Linked DNA regions of Homo sapiens: region 2 is linked to region 1. The links come from fine-mapping of genetic effects on gene expression. Tissue or cell type: blood mononuclear cells. Region 1 holds a variant in brackets; the other region holds the start of a gene. All regions are shown on one strand. Distances are from middle to middle.

The links. PIP is the estimated chance that this variant, and not a neighbour inherited with it, causes the effect.
Region 2: NEMP2 starts here. The variant in region 1 is fine-mapped to the expression of NEMP2 in blood mononuclear cells (TOPMed, PIP 0.91).

What each region holds. Positions count from the first base shown.
Region 1 is chr2:190,480,985-190,483,744 of GRCh38, reverse strand. The region is part of intron 4 of MFSD6 (major facilitator superfamily domain containing 6); the gene reads right to left. It also overlaps a transcript of NEMP2 not described here. Among named protein-coding and RNA genes, the nearest start is that of NEMP2, 52 kb to the left of the region's middle. The variant G/A (reference allele first, on the strand shown) is at 1,669.
Region 2 is chr2:190,533,760-190,536,378 of GRCh38, reverse strand. NEMP2 (nuclear envelope integral membrane protein 2) reads left to right here and starts at 1,657. Exons shown (of 9, transcript NM_001142645.2): 1 at 1,657-1,820. The coding sequence starts at 1,724. NEMP2-DT (NEMP2 divergent transcript) reads right to left here and starts at 1,541. Exons shown (of 5, transcript NR_183903.1): 1 at 1,258-1,541. RefSeq lists a silencer at 1,344-1,993.

The sequences.
Region 1 (2,760 bases):
TCCTGCCTCAGCCTTCCGAGTAGCTGGGACTACAGGTGTGTGCCACCACGCCCAGCTAATTTTCGTACCCTTAGTAGAGACAGGGTTTCACCATGTTGGCCAGGATGGTCTTGATCTCTTGACCTCGTGATCTGCCTGCCTCGGCCTCTCAAAGTGCTGGGATTACGGGCGTGAGCCACTGCGCCCAACCCTGTTTTCATTAATATTATCACATCAGCTTACTCTACAAGGAATTGTGCTAAGTGTTTTACACAGATTATTGAATCTATTCCTCCAATAGGTACAGTACTATTTTTTCTTCATTTTCCAAAAAGGAAACCAAGGCACAGAGATATTAGATGCCTTGTCCAGAGTCACACAGAGAAGAGAGTTGTTGAATAGGATTTGAACCCAAGGTGTCCAAGTTCAGAGCTTAGGTGCTTAAATATTACACTATATGTTCTCATAACAATTGTTAGAAGTATTCTATAGTAAATGTAACTATCTACTTTGAGAGATTTTGTTGTTAATATCAAACATACCCCACAAGCTACCAGTTTAAAAGATGATAGTCGGCCGGGCGCGGTGGCTCACGCCTGTAATCCCAGCACTTTGGGAGGCCGAGGCGGGTGGATCACGAGGTCAGGAGATCGAGACCATCCTGGCTAACAAGGTGAAACCCCGTCTCTACTAAAAATACAAAAAAATTAGCCGGGCGCGGTGGCAGGCGCCTGTAGTCCCAGCTACTCGGGAGGCTGAGGCAGGAGAATGGCGTGAACCCGGGAAGCAGAGCTTGCAGTGAGCCGAGATTGCGCCACTGCAGTCCGCAGTCCGGCCTGGGCGACAGAGTGAGACTCCGTCTAAAAAAAAAAAAAAAAAAAAAAAAAAAAAAAAAAAGATGATAGTCTTAATAACTCTTCTCCACCCTTTCTGAAGAGCTGACATGTCATCTATATTGTTTTTTAAATGCCCCAAATACCTTATAACACTCAACACTGGTATCTGATTGTACAACATGCATTTCAAAATTGTTCAGTCTTGGCCCACAAGAATGCTCTACTGAAATAAATGGCATGTATGAGCAGGAAAAAAAGTCCTTTCTTCTTAAGGAGACAGCTGCTCTTTGTAAACTGTTGCTTGGCTTGGGGAAATCACATTATAATGGCTGGGAGGAGTGAGAACTGACACAGTACTAGGGAACTAGGATTGTTTTGTTTTTCTTCCTTCTGCCACTGACTTAAGCTTACTGAACAAAACATAACTATCCCTTTAGCATTGGCACACAGAATCAGCTGTGACAAACCTTTCCCATGAATAGACCAAAGCATACATTTCAATTAGTTCTGGGATTAAAAAAAAAAAAAAAGGAAAGCTTCCGAAAGGTCAACTTGGTGAAAATCAGTAAGAGACTATTCTTCCTAAGGAAAGGCCTCCATTGGGCAGGCAATAAAAGAAAAAGTCTATATTGGAAATCTTAGTGGTTTCACACATTAAATGTTTTCTTTTCTTGCTCACACAAAGTCCAATGAACAGGAGACAGGAGTAGTAGCAGCTCTGCTCCATAGTCATTCAGGGATCCAGGTTACAGAGAATCTGCCATCTGCAATGCCTGGTTACCCTAGGTATCAATATCCAGCTGACAGAGAAGGGAGTGACACACCTCTGCACCTGACCCATACAATTTCCCAC[G/A]TGCTATCCTTTCCTCCTATCATTTCTGCTTTTATTCCGCTGGCCAGAATTAACCACATGGTCATACCTAACTGCAAGGGAGGCTGGGAAATAGAATCTAGCTGCATGTCCACGAAGAAAAGGAAACAGAGATGGTGAGTAGCAAGCCAGTCTCTCTGTCAGAGTTGGGGCTACTAACAGCAATACACCTTCCACAAATGGCGGAGGATCCTACAAAGAGCAATGGACTTAGCAGCAGCAGCAGCATGGATCTTCTGTGTGCTGCACGAAAGAAAGTTTATATAAGACATGCAACAATTTGTGTTAAAAGCCAACATTCCCACACCTATTGATGTATAGGACTGCAAGAATCCCCTTCATGCATTCAACAGTATTTACTCAGCATCTATATTATGTGCCAGATAGCCTGCTAGGCTTTGAAAATATGACAATATGCAAAATAATGTCCCCAGCCACCAAGGAGCTTACAGTCTGGCAGGTGAAAGGGGGCAGGATTTATCTAAAGGGGACGCAGACTGAGCTCCTTGAGAACAGACATATCCAGCACCCAGCAGAGGGCTGACATGTAACAGCAGCTGAACAAAAGGACATTGAACTGAAACAGGGTAGGCAGTGGTCTACATGTTGGGATATGACGAAGAAAGCATTTATGGATAAAAGGTACCCTGGGTAAGGTTGGAGAAAACTTCCAAATCCCATATATAAGTAAAAGTGGACAGAGGAAATAAAATAGTAGATCTCTTCTATAAGCTCTAGCTTGCAAACTTAAAAAAATATATGAGTTGCTTAAAAAAAGTCTATAACTGATGTAACAATGTTCTAGGGGGCCCTCGTGAATTTTTACATGCTGGCATTATGCCTTTGGCATACCTTTAAGCAGGTTTTAGGAGACTACCACCCAAAACCCAGGGAGTTTAATGTTAAGACTTGGCAACATTATACTACACGCCCAGTGTTTTCCCACCTGAAGCCACACATGAGAACTGCTTTTCTATCAGCCAATAAAGATTTCACTTATCTTCCTCAAAGATAACTTTATTAATAGTGTGCACTGACTAGCCACATTTCCCTTACGCTTTGGTCATTAGGCTT
Region 2 (2,619 bases), 53 kb before region 1:
CTGCTGCTCCCCAAAGGGCAGAAGGTTTGTGCTTCTATCTCTTCTCCAGAAGCAGGGGGTCTTTGCCAGGATCCTGTTGGTGGTAAAGCTTCCTGCCCTTCCCCCAGTGGATAAGGTTTTCATACAGAAGAAAAGTTTGGAGAGGTTAAGTGGAATTTCATGATTGTCCCCCAGTGACAGAACTATCACCTCCTAACATTCTTGTTATCTCCGGAAAAATATTTATTGCTTATAGAGAAAAATGTGGTGTTTCAATATAGCTTCTTTACAGATATTTACTAAGGATCTGTGATATAAATAGCACTTTAAATATTTAGTACATTGCTGCCTGCCCTTTTGTTTCTCCACCAGATATATCTGTAGAAAATACATTCATCATTCAACAACCCACCTGTTTATTTTAGCTACTTTCCATAGTGCCATCCAAAATTAAACCAAATCAAAATGAATGTGGTTAGGTACAAAAGCTGTCTTGCAAGAAGCAAGTGCACACCGCACCTGGGAATACAGGAAAGAATTGGATCAGGGCTCTGCTGTTTCTCTGAAGACAGGCTTCACTCAAGTAATGATGGTTTATTTTTAAAAACCATCCCTCTGAAGAGTCCCTTACAAGGAAATTTCTTAACTTTTTAAAAGCCATACATGGTGTACACATGGTGCCAAGTGCTTAAGGGCAGTTGGTTAAACCTTTCTTTGAGGGCAAGGAAAGCCTAGTCCATCCTACTCAGACTTTTAGGAAAAATGAGGCTTATCTATTTTTAACAGGATAATTTCTGTTACTTTGGGTTCTCTAAGATATCTCACCAAAAGACCAGAATTAGAGAAGACTGTCCTAGTTAAGTATGGAATATTGAGTCAAATTAATGGGTTCCAGGTCCTGTGGAGGGAATGTTCTTTAAAATATATGTATATCTCCTAATTATCAGTATTAAGATCATTCAGGTTATATGTTAATTTAAAAATATATCTATTACATTAAGAAACTTTTTTTTAACATAAGGTAATTTTAAGAGAACCTTGTCATGTTGGTGAAGGAACATTTTACGAGCCCCTCTGTACTCTGAAATGCCGTGTCCGAGATTAGACATACAAGTCAGTGTTACTTAAGCGGCCAAATTTCCAATTTGTTATTGCTTGTTACCAAATGAAAGTAAAAAGATAAACAGAAAGGTAAAATAAAGAAACTGGCTTTTATGTATTTTATTCACAAAAAGGGCGTTTGCCGAAGGACCTTCCCATTCACGGGCTGTCACTCACAGGTGCTCGGAGAATTCAGCCTCCAAATCCGCAGGTCACAGGTCAGCCAAGTTTTAAGAAACACTCCGGGTTAGCGACTCTTCCTCTCTGCAACTCCCACCCCTGCGCCGAGGGCAGCGGGACACGGCCGGGCGGTCCCCAGGGGAAGATGAGGCCCTGGACGCCCCGCGTGCGCTGGAGGCCCGGAGGCCAAGGCCGAGGCCGAGGCCGAGGCCGGGAGCATGCCAGCGGGGTCGCGCCACCGAAAGCTCCTCCGGCCTGGGCCCGCCGTGCCCCGAGGCCGCGGGCGGAGGCTGGAGCAACGAGCCCAACTCTCCCTCCGCCCCGGGGAGGCGGGGTCTCCGCCTTTCCCGCGTTCGGGCCTCACCGCCCCCTCCGCCTTCTCTGAGCCCCCGCGCCACTTCCGCTCCTCGCAGCGGAGCCGGTCCCCTAGGGCTCGGGTCGCACGGAGCTGACCCCTAACGAAATGGGGCCGCGCCAAGGGCGGTGGTGGCTGCTGCTCTGGCTGCCGCCCCTGGCCACACTGCCCGTGCGCGGGGAGGCGGCGGCGGCAGCGTTATCAGGTAACCCGGGACCGGCGGCGGCGGCGCGCGCGTGCGTGCTCGCTCCCCGGCTTCGCGGCTGCCCTGAGGGCGCGCTCTTTGGCCCGGGCGGCACCGCGAGGCCCACTGGGGCGGGCGCTCCCTTTTCTCGCTTTGGGGTCTCCCGGGCAGGCCCCGCCCGCCCTTCCTGTCTTACTGGGCTTCCGTAGTCTCTCGCCTGGCAGTTGGACATTTTGTAATTTTAGAATTAGAAGCAACCGCGCGATCCAGTCGCCCAATTCCCTCGTTTTACAGAAGCAACCGAAACTCAGAGAGGTTTTGATTTGCCCAGGGTCACACAGCTTGTCACTGGCACAGCTGACCCTAGTCTCCAGACTTTCAGCACACGGCCTTTTGTACAGTACATCAATGCGTGTTGAAATCCTTGTTATTTCACTATCTCGCATTCCTTTGGTCTCAAGACTAGAGAAGGTAACAGCTTCAGCTTCAGAATCGGAGCGAAAATTCTTCTGCCCCTGACTGTTGTGACCTTGAGCGAGTAAACATAACGGTCCCACGTGAGCGGCAGGTAATGAGGCCTCACAAGGTTCTTGTGGTGTTCGTGTGCACAATGCCTGGCACACAGGAAGCAAGAACTGGTAGCGGCTGCTAGCTGTAGGGGCTCGCCACGGAGTGGGCTTAAGATGCTGGCACACTGGGGAAGGATCTGGGAAGGACACCTGGGGAAGTCAGAAACCTAGAGTTCCAACTCCAGACCTGCCGCTAACTTACCATGAGCTTCACATTTCTGTTTCTTTTTTTTTTTCCCCTCATAAAATCT